Regions from separate parts of the Homo sapiens genome. Here region 2 is linked to region 1. The links come from fine-mapping of genetic effects on gene expression. A gene starts in region 1. The other region holds a variant in brackets. All regions are shown on one strand. Distances are from middle to middle.

Region 1 (11,457 bases):
AAAGTCTTCTAAGCCCCAGGGTCCAGTGCTGGTAAGTGAGATGATTTTAGGTGCAAATGAGTATTTTTATAGTAATGATTGTATATTTAATGGGCATTTAAAAAATTCACATAGATCGTATCACATAACTCCAGCCTCCATTCCTACTTCTGATAACAGCTCCCAGACTTTTCTGTGAAGAGCTGCAGTGCTGTCATTGGAGTCAGTTTGGGTGAGACTATCAATCAAGGTGCTCCTCTTTGCTAGCAAAGGTGTGTGGCAAATAGATGATGCTCTGTTCCTGGAATTCCAATGAAGTGTCACAGAGTTTTCAGTTTAATCCGCCCTGTGACTGCGTGATGATTCCTGCGACCTCTGACCCTGGGGCTGTCCGAGCTCCTCTCTCCCAACCCCTGACTCCTCTGCTGATGTTTTCACTCTAGGAGTTACCCTGTGTCCTTCCAATATGCTCTTTTTTATTTTTTAATTCTGTATCACTAGATCAGTTTTTTTTTTTTTTTGCTGATTATATTTAAATAATCCTGTGTCACTTTGCGTGTCATGGATATTTTTGCTTCAGAAAAATTAACATCTTAACTTAAAACATAAATTGTTTTAAAGAAAGAAATCTGAATACATAATTGTACAGATAATACTCAGATGTAGCCAAAATTGTGAGGATTGGCAAATGGCTAATGATTGGGAAACAATAAAAACTGCCGTTAACAATTAGCTTCCTGGGTATGTTTAGGCATTAAAATTGGAGTTATCTTGAAAAAGTCATTGAAAATATATCAAGGATTGTATTATTGAGCTGATCCTATTAATGAAAAAACATGGACTTGGACAGGATAATGTGCTAATTAATATATTAATGGTCTTCAAGGCCTAAAACAAGTTTTGAAAAGGGGATGATAGTATTTCCTTGGTCAAGATCATGTCTTTTTATTTAAAAACACTTATTGCCTATGTCACAGAATCTCATTTTTCTTTTCTCAGGTAGGGTATTTTATTTATTTTTTATATCATTTTCCACAATTAGTAAAATACTAAAGGTGTAAATCTCTGTCAGTCAAATCAAGCATTAGTGATGCAGACAATGTGTATGTGTGTGTTTGTGCACAGGAGGCATGCCTCTGAGGCTGGATAGTTCCGGGTAGGAGTGTTAGTGATGTCAGCCCTGTCCCCACTGGACACATCGTCATAAATGCCATGAGCTCCTCTGTCTCTGTCCCAACTCCAAGGCACAAGTTATGAACCCCTCCTTTATTGGTCCTCTTACCTAGAGGTTCTGAGTTCTGTTTTGGGATAGAAACAAACACTGAAGATTTCTATCCCACCAGATTCCTATTTGTATCTGATGCTTTTATTTTTATTTCAAAAATATGATTTTAAAATTTTGGGATGAAGACCGGGCTCGGTGAAGATGTTGACACCTGAAAATATCTTCAGCAATTACGTTTTCCAAGTAATTGCTGTCAGGGAAATAGCAATAAGATGTGCAGTTTACTTATGATTCCCCCCAATAATCTATTTCAGGGCAAGAAAGCTTCAGGTAGTGGAGATTTCACTTTGAAATGGCATAACAGGCTGGGCGTGGTGGCTCATGCCTGTAATCCCAGCACTTTGGGTGGCTGAGGTGGGAGGACTGCTTGAGGCCACATAGCAAGACCCCATCTCTAAATAAAAATAAATAAATAAAAATTAGAAAAAGAGAAATGACATAAGACTCAGCAATTGACTATGTTTCCAATATGACCTTTATTGAGCAAGTACTGCTGTGACGTTTAACATCGATCAACATAAGATTGCAAACTGTGCATGTCAACGAGGTTCTCCCATGAACAAAAGTCCATTTTAAATGCACCAGTGAGGTAAACATAATTATTCATATATAGCTTTCTTAAGGCTGAGTTCTGTGTTTCGTTTATTGTTTTTGGCTCAGTTGGTACTTTGCATAATACATCTCAAGACATCCCCCCTTAAGTGACCCCCTTCCAACAGCTTAGGAAATCGGCAAATTTCCCAGGTACATACAATATCATGCATTTGAATCCCCCAAAGACTGAGGAGGGAGCACCCTGAGCTTGCATGCAGTCCCCTCATATTGCACAAAGTAAAATACAATGTCTGGAGCCCCCATGGGAGAACCCGTTCTGTTTTGAAGCTGCCAATCACATGCATTTTGAAATTGTCATATGGCTTAACCTTTTGCAATGGACTCAAATCTTAGTCACTCTGGGTGACTTCCTTTACTATGGCGTGTGAAGTGACTTTTTCTACCTTTTTAGTAGACACTAGTTTCTCCTCAAAGGTCTCTTCATGCTCTTCAACCTTTTGAGTGACGGTTACAGATTTAGTGATGTATTTGGTAGCACCATCTCCCCCCTCACTGGTGATTTTTTCTACCGTTTTGGTCACCACCACTTTCTCCTCACTTTTATCACCCCCCTTCTTTTCATCTGCTGGGCTCAAGTCTAGGCCATTGGTGACAACGCCTTTCTCCTCTTCCCTCCCACTGCCTTTTTCCTTGGTCTCCTGCTCTACCTCCTCTTTTCCTTCTACCTCCCCATTGACAGCTATGTCTTCCTTCCTGGATCCCTTGGCACCTTTATCACTCCCTTCCTCCTCACTTCCTCCCTCTCCTCCCGCTTTCTCCTTCTCTTTCTCCTGCTGCAGTGGCTTCCCCTCTTCTTTGGTCTCTTTCTCCAAGTGCACCTTTACCGATTTGGTGATGGTGACCACCTCTGCCACAGCTTCCTCCTTTACAGGGGACTCAGCTTTCTTCTTCTCTGGCACATCCTTTGGTTTCTCTTCCTTTTTCTCTACCTTCTCTTCCTTGGGAGCTTCCTTGACTTCCTTTTCTTCTTCCTCTTTCTGTTCACCTTTCCCCACTTCTGCTTTTGACTTTGCCTCTTCCACTGGTGATTTTGGCACAGGAGATTTGGCTTTCTCTTCCACTGGTGATTTTGACACAGGAGACTTGCCTTTCTCTTCCACTGGTGATTTCGGCACAGGAGACTTGCCTTTCTCTTCCACTGGTGACTTGGGCACAGGAGACTTGCCTTTCTCTTCCACTGGTGACTTGGGCACAGGAGACTTGCCTTTCTCTTCCACTGGTGATTTTGGCACAGGAGACTTGGCTTTTTCTGGCTTTTCCACCTTGGCATCTGCCACCAGCTCCTCCTTGGTAGCCACTTCCTCACTCTTTTCCTCCACTTTCTTTTCCTCTTTAGCTTCGGCTTCCTCTCCTTCAGCTTCAGCTTCTGTTTCTCCTTCTTCCTGCTCACCTTCCTCTTTTTCACTAGAGCCTTCCTTCTCGGATCCTCCCTCTTCGGCTTGGTCTGACTTAGCTCCCTCATCTTCTTCCTCCTCTTCTTCCTGGCCTTCTTCTTCCTCCTTTTCCCCTTCCTCTTCTTTAACTTCAGGTGCAGTTGCTTTCACTGGAGACTTTTTGGCAGCTACTTCTTCTTCTTCAGCTTCGGGTTCCTCTTCCTTTTCTTCTGCTGCTTCTTTCTTCTCTTCCTTCATGGAAACGGCCAATTCCTCTGTAATGGCTGTCAGGGCCTCTTCCATTTCTGACTTCTCATCCTCCACTTTGGTTTCCTCTATGATCTCCTCGACAAATTTGTGTTGGACCTTAAGCTTGGGAGCTTCCACCTTGGGTTTCTGAATCTTACTGGATATTGTGATTGGGGGTCGGTGTGTATACAGTGGCCCAGTGATGCTTCCTGCAAATGTGCTAAATCTAGTCTCTTCACCCTCCAGGAGTTTTCTAAGGAGAAAATCCAAGAACATAAGACATAGTAAAAATTTCACTAGGCCTTCTGAGCTTCATTACATTCTGGGTATTGTGGTAGCTACCTTTGAATAAATAGAATTACATAAGTAGAATATTCTATGAATTCACTATAATACCTGCTATCACTTACTGGCATATTACATTATACTCAGTGACAGAGAAAGATTCTCCTGGACTGCCAGACAGTTGCCCCCTACAATGACTAACCTTGCCCAATAGTCCACTAACCACACCCAGCTACTAAGTCTTGGCCCTGCAGTAGAGATCCATTAGGTACAACATGAATATGCTGAAAAACTTGTTAGTGGCCAAATAGCAAAAAACAAAAACAAAAACAAAAAAACAAAAAGCCATAAACAAAACGCCCCCAAACTCCAAAGCCAAACAGCCTTTCTGAGAGTAGTCACTTTCTTAAACGTTTAGATTTTCAGGTGTATCGAGTTATAAATTTGTTGATAATTTTTATCATAAAGTGTCTATTTAATGTAGTTATTCAGCTTTCCTGAAAAGAGAGATAGCTCTGTAAATGCAATTTATTCTCGTTATATTATAACTACCTTATTGGTAGCAGAAAAATTTTAATCAACGATTTTGTCCTTTGCGCTTAGTCAACAGCAAGGTCACTTCAGTTAATAGACCTATAACCTATCTCACTATCTATAAAACGATCATATATATTTGTGTCTATATATCTAGATTTATATGCATATGCACATATGTGTATCTATAGATCTAGATTAATATCATACATGATATATTGATATAATTTATACTACAGTCTAGCATAAAATATAATACATATAAATTATCTACATATATAAAAGAACTATATCTATATTCTATCATTCTATATCTATTCTCAGCCAGATGATGGCAATAGTAAGCTATATAACAGAGAAACAGAGAAATAGAACGTCCTGGTGTTTGTCCTTGACATTATACATTTGAAAAGCTGAAACCACTAGATGAAATATTAGAAACCAAAACTCTGTTCATGCTTCCAGCATTTGAAAACATTTTTCCATAAAAAGTTTAAGCATGTGCATTGAGATTAATCTGCACCTCCTTTGTGTAATTCAAAAACCTTTTGTTTCTACTAGTATTCATTCTTTTAAAGCTGCATAAAAAGAGATAAAACTACACTTGCAATTCTTTAGAATAATTTCTTTTTAAGTAAGCAAGATAACCAGGTGCTGAGTTGATGCCTGCACCCTGCCTGCTTTAACTTAAGTGGTGGAAGCTCTGCCGGAACAGCCTCTGCACTGCGGTTAGTGTTCCGGCCACGCACGTAGTAAGCATCGTACCTGTACGCAGCGATTTCTATATCCAGAGCCATCTTGACGTTGAGGAGGTCCTGGTATTCGCGCAAATGACGAGCCATTTCCCACTTTGTGCCCCGAAGCTCATTTTCCAGCTGCTGGATGGTGTCCTGAAACAGACACAGAGAATCTCCCCAGACTCATCCTTGCAAACAGCAACTTCCTTCGCAAACCACTTGCTACCCCTTCCCCCTGGCCTCCTCCCGTCTCCCTCCACTTCTGCAAACCTCGCTGACACCTGACTCCCAGCCCCCCGTCCCACCCCCTTTTTCTTTTAAATCTAAGCGATTCTCAAATGAACATACAAGATCAGTAAGACAATAGGACACTTCCTGGGCACATCACGCACGGAGACCAGTGGACTTAGAACACGTCTCAACAGGACACAAACATGCATGGGGAAACTCCATGGCTGACCTGGCCATTCCCATCTGAGCCCTTTGGGCTGAAGCCAATTTTGAGAGCTCTTCCGATCACTGCCGGAAAAGTAGAGAATACACGCGTTTCTGCATAAGCTATCCTAAAGTTGCTGATTTATCCACTACCGAATTCATCCCTCCTGCTTTAAACGTGCAAGCGTGCAAAATTAGAACTGGAAAAGATGCACGTTTCTGAAAAAGGTCAAGACCCTTAGCAGCTGGGGCAGGTGGGTGGGGGCGGAGTGTGGAGGATGAGATGGGCGAGGACGCTGATCCGCAAATACCCTAGGTCTGCGGCGCGCGTGCTCTAGCGAGCGGCCACCAGGGAGCGCGGCGGAGAGGGCGCCTGGGCACGAGCCCAAGTGTCGGGGGCGCGCGGCGCTGGCGCTGGCGCAGGCTGGCCGCGCAGCCGCGGTTCCTACCTGGTAGCTGCTGAGGTCGTGGTTGTGGCGCTCCTCGATGTCGCTGAGCTGCCGCTCCAGGGACTCCTTGGTGCCGCGCACCGACTCTAGCTCGATGCTCTTGGACTGCAGCTGGCGCCGGTACTCGGCGATCTCTTCCTTGGCGGAGCGGATGGCCTCCTTGTTCTGCTCGGCCGCCTCGGTGAGCTTGGCGTAGCGGCATTTGAACCACTCTTCGGCCTGGTGCATATTCTGGTCTGAGTGGCTTTCGAGCTGGGAGCGGATTTCCTTCAGCGCCGTCGAGATGTCTGTCTTCAGGTAGTCTTTGCGCTCCACCGTGATGTGCGATGCCTGGATCTGGGCCAGAAGGTCGGCCACCTCCTCCTCGTGGTTGCTCCGCAGGAAGGCCACCTCATCCTGCAGCGACTGCACCTTCTTGTCCAGCTCCACCTTGACCAGCGACGCCTCCTCGATGTCTTTGCGCAGCGCGCGGATGGCCGCCTCAGTGTCGTCGCGCAACCGCGCCTCCTCCTCAAAGCGCTCCTTGAGCCGGTGGATGTCTTCCTCCAGGTGGTCCGAGTCCAGCTGCACCTGAGCCTTCTCGTGGTTCACCATCTCCAGGGTGGCGCGCAGCTCGCGGATCTCCTGGTCGTACGCGTCGCCCAGCTGGGCGTGCGAGGCCTGCTTCTGCCGCAGCGCCTGGATCTCCGCCTCAATCTCCTTATTCTGCTGCTCCAGGTAGTGCACCTTCTCTATGTAGCCGGCAAAGCGGTCGTTCAGCCCCTGCAGCTGCTCCTTCTCGTTGGAGCGGGACAGCTTGTAGTCGCCGCCGGGTCCGGAGCCGCCGTTGAGCAGGGACGAGGACTGGCTGAAGTCAAGGCTGCTCTCGGCGGAGCTGAGCATGGCCGAGCTGTAAGCGAGGCGCGGGGCGAGCATGCTGCGCTTATAGGAGGAGGACACGGTGCTGGGCGAGCCGCGGGACCACGACTGCGAGCGGAAGCCACTGGACGGGGAGCCGCTGACGCGGCTGAAGCTCGAGCGGGTCTCGGTTACCCGCCGGTAGGCGGACGGGTTGCCCAGCGAGTCCAACGTGTAGCTCATCTTGGAGGCCTTGGGGCGTGTGGCTGTCACAGCGTTCTGCCGGCCTCGCCGCAGCCCATTTATAGCCGCGGCGCTGGTCCCGGGCCAGGGCCCCGCCCCGTGGAGGCGGCGGCCGAGGAGGCGGGGACTGCGGGCACCGGTCGGGGAGGAGGGGAGGGGGGCGGCTGAACGGTGATTCAGCGCCCGCTCCACGTGGGCCCAGGCCGCATGGGAACCTGGACTTTTCTGCCCTGGGCCCAGCCCCTCCCCCAGGTCCCCTTTCAGTCCCAGGCTACTTGTAGCCGGGCATTCGCCTTCTTTCCATTTCTCACCTCCCGATTGCGTTTCGCACCCTTGGTGCGAATATCGCCAGCGCCCTTTCTTTGTCACTGTCCCGCCGTTCAGGCAGCGCTTCCCCGACCCCGTGGTCCCCTTGTTCTTTAGCCTTCTACCCTCTTATCCTCAAGGCTTTCTCTTATTTTGCCCTTTCCCTGATACTTTTTTCTTTACCCATCTTCTGTGCTTAATTTCATCCCCTTCTTTTTTGGCCCCTCTTCTCCTTCCTACTCTGGCCTTTAGTCCAGTTCACCCTGCCCTTCTCTCAGCCCCTTCCTCGGAGATCCTTTTCTTCCAATCTTTCCTTCTCCCCGTCTCCTCCCTCCTTCCCCTTGCATTCCCTCTTTTCCCCTCCCCCACCCTCATCTTTTCTTGCCTCCCTCCCCTTCCCCCACCCCTTGTCTTAAAGCAGCTGGAGATGAGCGCCGAGGAGCTGGGTCTAGAAGACAAAACAAAACAAAAAAAAAGACTTTGCGGAACGGTCTGCCTGAAGGCTTCGGGAAGGGGACAAAGAGAACAGGCCGGGGTAGTTATTTGTATAAAAAGTGGGATATGGCGTTTTTAACGTTTGGGGGACGTCCGCAGCTTCCGCAGGGGCAGAAGGTAAGGCGCTTGTGCTCGCTATGGCGCCGGCAGCACCAAGGACAGCGCCCAGGTCGGCGAGTGGGAGGTGCAGCCACCCGGGGGGCTTGTCACCCAGCCTGGCCTGTCAGGTTGGCAGGGGGCAGGGGGTTCCCTTCCCCCTCTTCTCTCCGAGTAAATACAATTTAAACCTGCCTGTAGTGACTATCTTTGCAGGAGCGAAGCTGGAATCACAGGCTAAGACTTCCCTGCAATGCAGGGTTGGCACAATGGACAGATCGCAGATTTTGAAAACAACCAAAATTCATTAAAGTCAGTTAACAGAAATATATACTTGTAGCCCAGTTTGAGTTTTCTAACATATGGTGGTATAGGAAATGAAGAGATACAGGGCCTGAAATGTGAAGGTCAAATACTCCTTGGAAAGGAGAATTTGAAATCTGTTGGGATGAAAAGTCCAGGGAAATATAGTTTTTCTTAAGTTTGGACACAGACAATTGCCTTGTCATCTTTCGGTTCAGTATTCCCTATGTGTAACTGCAATGATTGAAAAGGCATCTGAATTAACTTTAAATTGATTTAAAAGTTGCGGAACAGAGTCACCACAACCTTGAATAAAATCAGATGTTTTCCCTTCATTTAAAATGTAATATATTTTTCGCTTTAGATTTTAATGATTGATTTGGAATAGATTTTCTATATCATTAAACATGTTTATGCAAACAAGAACTCTACACAGACTTCTTGCTGTCTGGTGTACTCCTGTTAAAATGTCCCTTTATTTTGGGTAGTGCTTTGGGGGTAATTCAGGTTAAAAAAGTTCAGAATACTACAAGATAAAGTGAAGAAGAGATTGCAGAACTAACAACAGCGCTGGGGCCACAGGTACAAGTGACTGAATGTGCAACGCTTGCTATGGGTGAGAAGAAACTACTGCTTATAAAAAGTAGGGACTCCAGACCGAAATAGCTTCTTTTCACAGCATGTTTCCTTAAGTCCCTGTTTTATTAAAAGACAGGATCATATTCATCAGTAAGTAATCAGGAAAGGGGTGGGTTTCTAGAGGTTTTATTTTTTATTTTTATCAGCTCCCTTGGCCCATCTGTATTAAAATAGAAATAATGTTTTAAACAGGAGGTGCTAATTTTGGGAGTTACTTTGGTTTATTAATATGAAACTGCAGTATCGCAGGCCATGTAGGAGAAGGATGTTCTAGTTTGCTGAGAGACCTTAGGCAAGCAGAGCCCATCCATGTCTTGAGTTGTTGAGAGAGACAGATGATGGAATGAGGGGACTGACTTGTGAATACTGTAAAAACAGGATTTTCTGGTTTTATGTAGATAAATAAAGGCAAGGAGAAAGAAAATTCCCTGCCTTCTGTAAAGTATTGCGGATGTCAGGCTGGACTCAGCAGGATACCATCTAGATAAGGCCAAATGCTAATTATGCAGTAATTTTGCCTTTGTTGCTTATTACTTTCTGCTTTTATTGAAATATATAAAAATCCTTGGCAATTTCATGGTGCACATTCACTGCAAACTCTGCAATGAGAGTACATGGTTAACCGGCAGCCTTCTGCTGTTAATTTTCTTTAGGGCTTTGGAAACGAGATGACTCTGCAGAGAGACATTTACAAGGAAACACATGTCTAACTTCACAATTACCCAGTTTTGCCTTGTATCTGAAGTAGCTGAGAAATTGTTCAGCTTCCAGCTGGTTACAGAAGGAGGAAAGTGTTGCGTACAAACAAAATAAGTCAGTTACTCAGGCTACATCTAGTGCCTATAACTTAAAATTGTAACTTCAATGTCACATGATATATTGTTCAATCTGGGCACTACAGGATAATGCAAAGAATTAAAACAGTTGTTTTATTAAGAAAAAACAGTTCCCATGGCTTAAAAAATGATGGATCCAGTTTCACATTTAGCAAAATGTTTTCTTTTATATTAAACTCTTCCACTTTAACTACTCTTCCTAAAGGTGATTTGAAGGTTATACCCATCAGTAAATTTAGTATGAAAACTTTTTTTAAAAAGCTATAAAAGATGTTTTTCCCTTTTTGTCTCATAGTTTTGAAGAATATTTACCATCTTAATAGTTTTCACAGAAAGAAATGCTTTTGCATTTTTTTAAACCCTAAGAACACTAAGGCTATGAAATCTTCTCAAAATATTAAAAAGAGAGAAAACAATCATGGCAACTCACCCGGATTAACCACACTGCATTCATGGAATTAAGTTTGACTACGATACTTTTGTAATTTATTCTAAATAGAAAAGTTTCTCATATGATTTAGATGTAAGACATTTTAAATGAAATTATCTCTGAATTGTTGTTTCATAAGCTACAGTCTGTTTTGAATCACTTTATAGAGAAATACAAGGCATGCTCCAATCTATATGTTCCTTCAGTAGGGAAAGTGAAAATGTTAACTTTGCAGCTAAGAGATGATAGCCACTGTCAGGTTTTGTAGGGTGTCATCTAATACTGGGAAAATATCATTTGCAAAGGTGGTATATTTACTGGGTCATAAAATAAAGATAAAAAATAAGGAGTTAGGCATTTTCTCCCATCTTTCCCTATTTCCTTACATTTCTTCTTTTAAATAGCATTTTTGGATATAAAAAAATGCAAGGAGGATGGGATGTAGGAACTGGATAGCAAGAAAGATACTCCAGATGGACAACGTCACTTTCAAATTGGTAGGCTGAATCCATCCAAGATGAGATGATCTGTACTTTCTTTCAACCTATTGTGTCTTGAACTTAATCCGTTTGCCTGGGATCTGGTTCTAGAACTCATAATAATTATTTATAACCTGTCCTCTGCTAATTGTTTAAGGGGTTGTTGATGTAGGAAGCTAGGGACTTAGTCTGCCGAAGCAGGAACACAAGAAAAAGGAAGCTATATTACATATTTCTACTTGATCCTCAGGATGTCAAACTTTAAAAGCAGTGTTGACTTTTGATTTTGTTGTTGTCAAGAGTTGAAAGCAAAATAAAAATATTCTCAGGGGAGAAAGACTGTTTCTTGTCAGGGAAATTGGGATGTATATGTATGTCCCTATTGTCTTTGATCAAAACAAATCCATCTAGACCACAGTGTTCCTTTTCTGTCATTAGGCCACTGAAATGGTGTTTGTTTCCCTTGCCAAATATTTTATTCTTTGAATATTGCCTTCTATTTGTCAGTTACTGTTATGATGAAGTTAATTGAAGTATTTACAAAACTTAAAACATTTAATCTTTATTATATTCCAAATGTTAAATTAATCAGTTTTAAAATTCTATATCTGGAAATTTCATGTGTGTGGTGGGGGAAAATTTAGCTTTTGGCTTTAACATAGCTTGCTGATTTTTTTGCTGTGTAATGCTTTCACCTCTCCACTGTGAATCCTTTCTGTGAAAGCCAGGGGAGAAAGATTTAGAATTTTAAAAAAGTACTTAATAGAGCCTTGGTAAAAGTGACTCTAAAAATAAAGTTCAGTAGATGCATAATAAAAGAGTACTCCTGTATTAATTTTCAGCATGTTTTTA
Region 2 (11,457 bases), 93 kb before region 1:
GAAGGGATCCAGTTTCAGCTTTCTCCATATGGCTAGCCAGTTTTCCCAGCACCATTTATTAAATAGGGAATCCTTTCCCCATTTCTTGTTTTTGTCAGGTTTGTCAAAGATCAGATAGTTGTAGATATGCGGCATTATTTCTGAGGGCTCTGTTCTGTTCCATTGGTCTATATCTCTGTTTTGGTACCAGTACCATGCTGTTTTTGTTACTGTAGCCTTGTAGTATAGTTTGAAGTCAGGTAGCGTGATGCCTCCAGCTTTGTTCTTCTGGTTTAGGATTGACTTGGTGATGTGGGCTCTTTTTTGGTTCCATATGAACTTTAAAGTAGTTTTTTCCAATTCTGTGAAGAAAGTTATTGGTAGTTTGATGGGGATGGCATTGAATCTATAAATTACCTTGGGCAGTATGGCCATTTTCACGATATTGATTCTTCCTACCCATGAGCATGGAATGTTCTTCCATTTGTTTGTACCCTCTTTTATTTCATTGAGCAGTTGTTTGTAGTTCTCCTTGAAGAGGTCCTTCACATCCCTTGTAAGTTGGATTCCTAGGTATTTTATTCTCTTTGAAGCAATTGTGAATGGGAGTTCACTCATGATTTGGCTGTGTTTGTCTGTTATTGGTGTATAAGAATGCTTGTGGTTTTTGTACATTGATTTTGTATCCTGAGACTTTGCTGAAGTTGCTTATCAGCTTAAGGAGATTTTGGGCTGAGACGCTGGGGTTTTCTAGATATACAATCATGTCATCTGTAAACAGGGACAATTTGACTTCCTCTTTTCCTAATTGAATACCCTTTATTTCCTTCTCCTCTCTGATTGCCCTGGCCAGAACTTCCAACACTACGTTGAATAGGAGTGGTGAGAGAGGGCATCCCTGTCTTGTGCCAGTTTTCAAAGGGAATGCTTCCAGTTTTTGCCCATTCAGTATGATATTGGCTGTGGGTTTGTCATAGATAGCTCTTATTATTTTGAGATATGTCCCATCAACACCTAATTTATTGAGAGTTTTTAGCATGAAAGTTGTTGAATTTTGTCAAAGGCCTTTTCTGCATCTATTGAGATAATCATGTGGTTTTTGTCTTTGGTTCTGTTTATATGCTGGATTACATTTATTGATTTGCATATGTTGAACCAGTCTTGCATCCCAGGGATGAAGCCCACTTGATCATGGTGGATAAGCTTTTTGATGTGCTGCTGGATTCAGTTTGCCAGTATTTTATTGAGGATTTTTGCATCAATGTTCATCAAGGATATTGGTCTAAAATTCTCTTTTATGGTTGTGTCTCTGCCCGGCTTTGGTATCAGGATGATTCTGGCCTCATAAAATGAGTTAGGGAGGGTTCCCTCTTTTTCTATTGATGGGAATAGTTTCAGAAGGAATGGTACCAGCTCCTCCTTGTACCTCTGGTAGAATTCGGCTGTGAATCCATCTGGTCCTGGACTTTTTTGGTTGGTAAGCTATTGATTATTGCCTCAATTTCAGAGCCTGTTATTTGTCTATTCAGAGATTGAACTTCTTCCTGGTTTAGTCTTGGGAGGGTGTATGTGTCGAGGAATTTATCCATTTCTTCTAGATTTTCTAGTTTATTTGCGCAGAGATGTTTATAGTATTCTCTGATGGTAGTTTGTATTTCTGTGGGATCGGTGGTGATATCCCCTTTATCACTTTTTATTGAGTCTATTTGATTATTCTCTATTTTCTTCTTTATTAGTCTTGCTAGCAGTCTATCAATTTTGTTGATCTTTTCAAAAAACCAGCTCCTGGATTCATTAGTTTTTTGAAGGGATTTTTGTGTCTCTATTTCCTTCAGTTCTGCTCTGATCTTAGTTATTTCTTGCCTGAGAAGAAGTTCTTTTCAACTGAAACACTGCTAAGTTGGGCTGCAGCTGAGCCCAGGCTCTCTAGTCTGTACCTACTCCTCTATTCATTGGTTATTTGGTGTTAAGAGGGGATACTAGGAAGGGGAGGCTGGAGGGTTGAGGATAAATACTTCTGATGCCACGAGTTTACCATAGCGTGATATAAACTGAGGGACGGGAAGGTAGTTGGACCATCTTTCATCTCCCAATTTCTTCTCAAACTTAGTGGGTTAAGGAGGGCAGGTGCCAGAAAAAGGTTCAAGGAACATGTTCAGTTAGGCCTTAAATATGCATTAAACATCTAAACTGTGCACAGAACTTTACTACACAATGTTGATATAACAATGTCCAAGTAAAGATAATTTAATTGTACATTTTTAACTAACTAAAAGAGTAAAATTAGATTGTAACACAAAGGATAAATGCCTGAGGGCATGGATACCCCATTTTCCTTTATGGGATTATTACATATTGCATGCCTGTATCAAAACATCTCATGTATCTCACAAATATATATACCTATTATGTACCACAAAAGTTAAAAACTAAAAAATTAAAAATCAATCCAATACACAGTTTCTTTCCATGAAGTACTAACATGCTAGTTGGGGAGATAAGATTTCTGCAGAACCTCTCTTTCAGGAAGGCTTCATAAAGCTGATGGGTTCTTAGCTGTCTGAGAATATACAAATGTTGGGAAAGTATAGGAGTGGTCTCCATGGTGTCTCAAGGTCCCTACTAAACTTTGGAGACCCTGAGACCTGTTTGATGTTATCATCAGTACCTGTAGCATTGGCTTCATCCTGAGACTTGATCACCTATCTGGCTCACTGAACTCCAGGGGGCTCTAAAAGTTTTTCCCATCCTAAGGCAAACAAACTCCTTCATTGATCCCAAGTGCAAAACCTAAAATGACTGTATAACTCTTTCTACCCTGACCCCACCCCTTTTTCTTTTGAGGACAAGAAGGCTTCAAAATTAAGCCAATCTGCTATTTGTAGATTTGGAGAATGTTCTCCCCTTTCAGATTTTCAGGTTTCAAGTTGCATCCAAAAGAGAAGAGACTCAGTCCTCCTCTCCACTGACAGAATACGACCTCAACATGGGTAGGAAAGTTCACAGACAGAAATAAGCTTTTGGGAAGAATGGAGCCAATGAGGTTTCATAACAGAAGGAGCACAGGATGGAGGAAGAAAGCTAAAGTTTTGCTGATTCACAAATGGGTCCAAGTTCAGGTGAAGACACATTCCCATGTGGGCAGATTGTCCAGTCTTTGCTCCCTTGGTGTCATTTTACCCCCAGTAACAAACTTTAATTATAACAGACCCATAACTCGGCAATTAAGAATAATTTATGTCCCTTTCCTAAGGGAGAATTAATCGCATATGCCAGACAGGATCCCTTTATCATTTTGTTAACTAGATAAGAAGCAGAGAGCTCCTTTTATTCGAGCCACCCTAAATATTGCAGTCTTTGCCATATAGCTCTAGGCAGTAGTTATCTTTCATTTTGTACCAAATACATTCTGAGTTCTCAATCTCTCATTTCAAAACAAATGAAAAACAGAAAGAAACTTAAAAGTAACAGGAACAAACTGTGCTTTCCTCGGCTGTAATCAAATTATTCCTTTTGTCCTGGCATTAGACAGTAGCTGGCAATAAAGAAAACCCCAGGAGCACAATATTCCCGTGATTGCGTCAGCATGGAAGATTAAACTTCCATAGCATTCAGGATGTCTCAGCTTTGCCCCTCAAACAAGAGGCTCTTACTGTCATCTCCACCATTTCATAGTGAAATATGTTTCTGCAGTGTTAGGGAGAATTTATGAGTAGCTCAAAGCTTCCTGTCTGAAGATACTTTCTCCCAGAAGCAAAGGAAAGGCAAGAAAAAAAAAAAATCCAACGCTGAAAATCAAAATAGATCTTTGTTTAGTTTTATTTAAGAAAATTTTATACCTTTGCAAAGCCCATATTGCCTGTGTAGGTTTCTAAACTAGAACAAACAGAACCCTTCAAAAAATTCCTAGTGAAGCAAAACTTTCATAGAATCACAATTTATTCTCTCAGAAGAGATGAGTCATTGTAATTTGGGTATCATGATTCACTCCTGCGCATAACCAGAACACTGGAACAATATTAATTACTCCAGCCTCATTTTCACTACAAAAGTCACTTCCAACTCCATCAGTTTTCAGTCCAAAAGAACATACCAAGTTTGGTAAAGAAACTTGAAGATCATTTTCTCTCTGCTTTGATCTAATTTTTTTAAAAAAAGACTTTAAGTTTTCAGATGATAGATTATATTCTTGAAAGCTGGAACGCAGATGCAGCATCTCACAATTCTACCAGGAACAGAAGAAATCTGGAATTGGAATGGAAGATGAGGTTGCTGTGAGCAGAGAGGGAGATGGGGTTTGTATTAAATTAGCTTCCTAGGCCCACTGTGGTGGCTACACTTGTAACCTTAGCACTTTGGGAAGCCCAGGAGGAAGGATCACTTGAGGCCAAGAGTTTGAAACCAGCCTCGGCAACATAGTGAGAGCCTGTCTCTACAAAAATTTTGAAAAACAAAAAAAGTGGCCTGGTGCGGTGGCTCACACCTGTAATCCCAGCACTTTGGGAGACCGAGGCTGGCAGATCACGAGGTCAGGCATTCAAGACCAGTCTGGCCAACTTGGTGAAACCCCATCTCTACTAAAAATACAAGAAAAATTAGCCAGGAGTGGTGGCAGGCACCTGTAATCCCAGCTACTCGGGAGGCTCCAGCCTGGGTGACAGAGCGAGACTCCATCTCGAAAAAAAAAAAAAAAAGGAGAAAAAGAAAAAGTTTCATAGGCAGACCAATGACTGTGGAGCATCACAGTCTAGGAGTGCAAGGTGAAAACCTTTTTATTTCCACACAGAGGTCAAATATTATTTATATATGCATACCAGGAAATTACTATAGCTGACGTTTCACAAATCAGGGCACCTGGTTCCCTATGACAGACCCCAAGTGTTCCCTGATTCAAGAATTTATGAGACAGTGGGCTCCCAAAGAGGCAGTCAGTCACCTACTCAGTGTATAGCAGTGCCAAAAGACCTCTCTATCCCCAGTGTGCCCCACCCTGCTGACCTTGAGACCCTCCCCATAACGTTGAAATTATCCACTTTTAAATTACTTATAGGTAATTAGAAAAAAAAAAAGGTAACCCAAGGTGATGGTGTATTTCTGTAAGACCCATGATAAAGCTGTTGATAATTTTCTGGCCTCTACGGTACTGTCTTTTTTTTTTTTTTTTTCTGACTTCTTAGGTTGCTAAAGACTCCTTGAGAACTTTATGCAATCGGTTGCTCTTTCCAGAAAAATATACAAATACATGGATGTTAGTGTGTAAATTCAGATGGATCACAAATCTCCTGAAGTCCACCCATGAAAACTACCCGTCTCTTTGCCCCTCAATTCTGAATATCTTCCCAACAGCTCACTCTCACCTCCTGTACAAGTCTCACCTCCTCCATGATGTCTTCCATGGTTTCCCTCATCTGAACACTTACAGTTCATCTGAGCACCATCTTCACTGCTCTTTTGCGCTATTGCAGAAAGTGAGTTTTCTTTTCATTCACTGGTGTCTTGACTTCCTGAATAATGATACGCTCCTCGAAAGCACGCATGTTGTGTTCTTGAACTTTATATCTCCATAGCACTGGGGAGGAAAGAAGGAATTCTGCTACGCCTAATACCCAACACACACTTTCCCTTTTCCAGTGTACATTTCTTTCCTTTTCTTTTTTCTTTTTCTTTTTTTTTGAGAAGCAGTCTCGTTCTGTCACCCAGGCTGGAGTGCAGTGGTGCGATCTCAGCTCACTGCAACCTCCGCCTCCCGGGTTCAAGGGATCCTCCTGCCTCAGCCTCCCAAGTAGCTGGGACTGCAGGCGCCCGCCACCATGCCCGGCTAATTTTTTGTATTTTTAGTAGAGACGGGGTTTCACCGTGTTAGCCAGGCTGGTCTTGATCTCCTGACCTCGTGATCCGCCCGCCTTGGCCTTCCAAAGTGCTGGGATTACAGGCATGAGTCACCACGCCCGGCCTCCAAAGTACATTTCTAATAA[A/G]TTCAACAGTTTCATAAACAACATATTTATTGCAACAATATCACAACATTTTGCAACAGCTTCAGAAATAGTGATTATTTATTGTGACAGTGTTGCAACATTTGTGACAGCTTCAGAAATAGTGGCATTTATTGCAACAAAGTGCAACATTTTAGAAAGTTGCAGCTGATACATGTTTCCTCCTCCCACTCTAAACAGAGACTTCCAACACAGAGGGAACTTGGAGAGTGCTGGGGGGTACTCAGCAGAATGGAAGCCTAACCGTTTCCAGGGAAACAATCAGTAAAGACATTTCCCTGGAAAGCCTGCGTTGCTAACTGCAGTGCCACCCCTGAGGGCTCCATTCATGATTTAAACACTGGATATGAAAAATAATCAGAGATTTAACCAAGGACACTACCAGTTTAAGCCCTTGTAGAGACACTCCTAATTGGAGCAGTTTCGGTGTGATCCCTCTTTTCTCCTTCACACAGGCCCCAGTGGCTTTAACCTACATTTCTGTAAAATTTGGAGCTTCTACCACACACGCATCAGGGGTCATCTCCCTCAAGCTTTCCTGAGAATGAATTTAAAGTCTGATGATTCTTTCAGTTACTTGCCTCCTTGTCATCCATTAGCAGTAAACTTTCACTTTTTCTTCTTTTCCCCTCATCCTAGGATCATGTTACAATTTAGTGGTTACGAGCTTTGGTATCAGACTGACATGATTTTTAACATTACCAGCTGTGTGACCAGGAGAATATGACCTAACCTCTGAAAACCTCAGTTTCCTCATGTGTCAAATGGGAATAATTGTACCAGTTTAAATTTGTTGTAGAGATTAAAAAATGAAACCAGGGCCAGGCGCGGTGGCTCATGCCTGTAATCCCAGCACTTTGGGAGGCCAAGTTGGATGGATCACGAGGTCAGGAATTCGAGACCAGTCTGGCCAACATGGTGAAACCCCGTCTCTACTAAAAATACAAAAATTAGCCAGGCATGGTGTTGGGCACCTGTGATCCCAGCTACTCAGGAAGGAGGCTGAGGCAGGAGAATCACTTGAACCCGGGCGGCAGAGGTTGCAGTGAGCCTACACTCCAGCCTGGGCAACAGAGCAAGATTCTGTCTCAAAAACAAAAACAAAATCAAAAACAAAACAAAACAAAAAAACAAGAAACAATGTGCACAAAGTCTACATTAAAATAAAATCGTGTATACTGCAATGTCTAGCACATAGTAAGTGCTTAAGGAATGAATAGTCCATCACAGTTTCTAGATCCTTTGCTAGGTTATACTGAGATGACTCTAGAAGCCATCAGATTGTGCTAAAATTTCTCTGTCTTGAGTAGATATGAAACTGACTTGGACTGGGACCAAAGGACTCAAGCAATATCCTACCAGGACCTGCTTCCAAATTCTTCAACTATGGACCATAGCTGTAGGAAATAGTAATTTCTACCACAGTGTTGATGTGTACATTAAATCAGCTTTTAGATAGATAGTGTCTAGCCTGCTACCTATCACGCAGGAAGTACTCAGTACAGGCTAGCGTCCCATCTGCAGCAGTTGTACCAGCCAGGGCATAAGAACAATTACCTTCAGGGAGGCTTCTCTAAGAATGTCTGGACCTGGGTTCTCTTTTATATTTGTCCATTTATTTACCATTTCCAGCTTCTTTGTTCCTCCTATAGATCTTCCATCTGGTACCATTTTACCTTAGTCCTTGGATCTTCACCATTTCTTATAGTGCAGGTCTGCTAGTAACAAATTGTCTCAGATTTCATCTATCAGAACATGTCTTTATTGATCTCTTTTTTCCCCCAAGGATCTTTTCATTGGACACATAATTATGACTTTACTTTTTTTTTCAGCATTGAAAAGATGTCTTTCTTTCTTCTTTCTTTTCCTCCCTCCTTCCCTCCTGCCCTCCCTCCCTCCCTCCCTTCCTTCCTTCTTTTGTTTTTGACAAAGTGTCTTACTCTGCTGCCCTGGCTGAAGTGCAGTGGCTTGATCATAGCTCACTGCAGCCTCAACCTTCTAGGCTCAAGTGACCCTCTTGCCTCAGCCTCCCAACTAGCTGGGACTCCAGGCACATGCCACTGGGTCCAACTTGAAAAGATGTCTTTCTGTTGTCTTCCGGACACTTTCTCATAAGAAATCAGTGATCATTGTTATCCTTGGTTCGACGTATGCAGTGTGTCTTCTCTGGCTGCTATAAGACTTTTTTTTTCATCTTCGATTTTTCCGCAATTTGGCTGTAATATGCCTACGAGTAGTTTAAAAAATGTTTATCCTGTTTTGTATTTGTCAAACTTCTTGGATCTGTAATATAATCAGTTTTGGGATTTTTTTTCAAAATTGCCTAATCTGACTCTCTTTTCTTTCTGAAGTTTCTAATTATAATTATGTATGTTAGACTATTTGTGTTGTTCCACGGTTCCTTGAGTTTGCATTTATTTTTTTTCAGTCTCTTTTCTCTTGTTTCTTCAGGTTGAATAGTTTCAGCTAATCCATCTTCAAGTTCACTGATTCTTTTTTCTTGCCATCTCTAATAAGCTGTTAGATTTTTCATTTTAGTTAATGTACTTTTCAGTTCCAGAATTTTGAGATAGTTATTTTCATTACAGTTTTCATTTCTCTGCTAAGATTTCCTATTTCTTCATTTTCAGACCTTGCTTTTTCTTACATTAAATTTTTTTTTTTAATTTTAAGTAATGGGGTCTCACTATGTTTCCCAGGCTGGTCTTGAACTCCTGGGCTCAAAAGATCTTTCTGTCTCAGCCTCTTGGCTAGCTAGGATGCACTGGCATGCACAACTGTACCAGCTTCTTTCATTCTTTGAACACATTTTTATTCAATTTTTTGATATATTTATCAAAGCTGATATAAAATATTTTTCTGCTCAGTTCAATCTCTGAGCCATCAGGTTGGTTATTATTGACTGCTATCTTTCTTGACTACAGAGCATATTTTCTTACTTTCTTGTTTGTCTAGTGATTTTTTTAATTGAATACTAGATTTTGAATAGTATGTTGAAGAAATTCTAAATTCTGTTATCTTCCTCTGAAGAGTGCTAATTATTGTTTAGCAAGCAGTTCAATTACTGGCTGATCACCTTAATCAAGTCATTTCCCAAGTTCCTCTACCTTGATGGGACTTGGCCTTCAAATTCTGTACTCCCCACCCCCCAATTATTTGTCAAGGCTCCGTTTTAGGCTGTGTTACTGCAATTCTGGAATAGGTCTTACTCTAGAACGAGCATGTTTTGACCCTCAGACCAATCCTGCCTACTCTCTATTTTTGAAAATATTGGAAATGAGTCTTGGAACACAGACATGCTATTAATTTGAGTATTTTTTTATGACTGATTTTCTGTTACAACAGCAGAGTTGAGTAGCTGCAGTACAGACCATATAGTCTGCACAGTGAAAATTATTGAACATATTGCCCTTTACAAAAAGGTTTGCTCATCCCCGCTGTAGAGGTTAGCCCTTATTGCTAAACAAAAGCAGTTCTGGTGTCTTAGCTGGATTTCAGGAGTGTTAATAAAGTGTTTTTGAAATCTCTATTCTTTCCAGGTCAGAATTCCAAAGTCTTTGGGCACAACTCTTCCCCCAGCATTGCTAGTATCTTTTCCCCCACAAATATTTGCTAACCTGTGAGTCCCAGGTGGTCTCCTGCTCATCTACAGCCCAGTCCGCAGTCATGACCTCACAAGGGGTCCTCATATGGGATTAGGGTAGTATTCTCTATAAAGCTACCTCCTTGTTGATGCTCCACCCTGCAGATTCAACTATTTCAGCTTTGCTAAACTCTGTTCTCTCTCTGTTCGGCCCAACTCTTGAGCCCTGCTTGGACCTCAGCTCTCTGTGCTACAGTTAGAAAAATCTCTTCCAGCAGAGAGCTGGATGATTTGGGGGTTCACCTTGTAAGTTTTTCTCTCTCAGAAATAACCATCTCTGGCTGTCTGTTGTCCACTGCCAGCCTCAAATATTTTCTCCTGGCTTTCTAGTTGTTTAAAGCTAAAAAACTAGTCCAGTACCAGTTACTGCATCATGACTAGATGTACAAATCCTTAAAGTTCTTTTTAAAGCCTCATCTCCCTCTTGGCAGATGATATCTTTCAGAGTCTGTGGCTCAATTTCTCATTTCTCCTCCAACTCCCAGCTCAATGTGTCTTCTCTTCTTTAAAGAGGCCAGGTTCTCTTAGGAATTTGCTAGTAATTTTCTATTTTCTCTCCCAGGGACATCTGCAGTTCACAGCCCATTTGCAAAAGGAACCAACTAACAGCCCCTGAATGTAATGACTGATGCATCCCTTTCCAACTCTGGTAACTAGCTCTGCCCACTCCCTTTTGTTCCCTAGGATGACTCAGGAAAACGTCCACACACCCTTCATGCTTGTGAGGCTTTAGAATTATACTTCACAACCACAAATCTTGTTAACCTTAATATGCGTGCACATTTCTATCTGTGGAAGAAGAATGATTGATCACAGGCTCATGCACAAAATAATCAATAGATAACCCAGTCAATTCTCATCATGACCAAGGAAAGAAGGAAAATAAAGTTTCATTTATTCAGGAACAGTGATGTGCCAAGAATTCTGCTAAGCACTTTTACATACATAATATGGCTTAATTCTTACTGTGACTTTGGAAAGATGATATTATTAATCTTTGTCTTGAATAAATAAAAACCCCGAGGCTTTGAGAGATTAAATAATTTATACTAGCTCGCAGCAGTCCATGGTGAAGTCCTAAAGCTGGGTAGGTCTGTGTGACTTCAGAACTCTTTCCCAAACATCAAATGACCTCACCAAAAAGGATAAGCCCCGACATGCACAGTTTATAAGGCTACAAGTTTTGTGACTTACTCTTTTAAGTCTGTTCTTTGTTTAAACTGATTTTACTTGCATAAAAATGTTAGGATGGGAAATAGTACATGGTATGCTTTTTCCTAAACTGAAATCAGCCTGTCTGGATACAGGAGAAGAAGCCAAGAATGGAAATAGAAGTGTTGTTGGTTTAAGAAGCCAAATTTTCCTCTTCTTTGATCTTAGTATTTATAAGAACATCATCTATCATTGATTAAGCACCTCTGTCCACCCCTGTGCTAAGCATTGCAGATGCATCTAATTTAAGCCCCTCAGTGAAACTGTGAGGTGGGTGTTATTGCTATGCCCCATTTTTAGAATAAAACAATAAAGTTTGGAAGGTTAAGTAATTTCTAGTAGATGGTAAGCTGCAGAGTCAGGGTCTGACCCAGACTGTAAGATTTCTGTCTGTGCTTTCAAATTCTGTGCTATTCTCCTTTCTAACTGCAACTGCATCTACCCTAAAAAATTTTGATTTCCTAACCTTGGAATTCAAAATAATCCAAACAATCTTGGCTTCTTCAGCCTCCATGCCCATACTCTTTTATGAGATAGTAGAAGAGCCTTGAAAATAGGATTGGGTTCAAATCCAGATCTTAACACTGTAAAAATGAAGAAAATTATTCTTGTTTTGCCAGAGTTGTGAGA

Direction of the effects. Positions count from the first base shown, and alleles are read on the strand shown. Sizes are in standard deviations (SD) of each study's normalised expression.
For the expression in fibroblasts of the gene that starts at base 7,054 in region 1, G is the high allele of the variant in region 2 and A is the other (small effect, 0.27 SD a copy in GTEx).

The links.
Region 2: its variant is fine-mapped to the expression of NEFM in fibroblasts (GTEx, PIP 0.98).

The regions. Positions count from the first base shown.
Region 1 is chr8:24,909,358-24,920,814 of GRCh38, reverse strand. NEFM (neurofilament medium chain) reads right to left here and starts at 7,054. Exons shown (of 3, transcript NM_005382.2): 1 at 5,942-7,054; 2 at 5,086-5,210; 3 at 1,722-3,754. The coding sequence starts at 7,021. The coding sequence ends at 2,209. LOC112268023 (a long non-coding RNA gene) reads left to right here. Exons shown (of 3, transcript XR_002956698.2): 2 at 1-31; 3 at 160-711. RefSeq lists an enhancer at 6,637-7,410.
Region 2 is chr8:25,002,485-25,013,941 of GRCh38, reverse strand. LOC105379330 (a long non-coding RNA gene) reads right to left here. Exons shown (of 3, transcript XR_949591.2): 2 at 5,355-5,548; 3 at 3,901-4,224. Among named protein-coding and RNA genes, the nearest start is that of NEFL, 52 kb to the right of the region's middle. The variant A/G (reference allele first, on the strand shown) is at 5,955.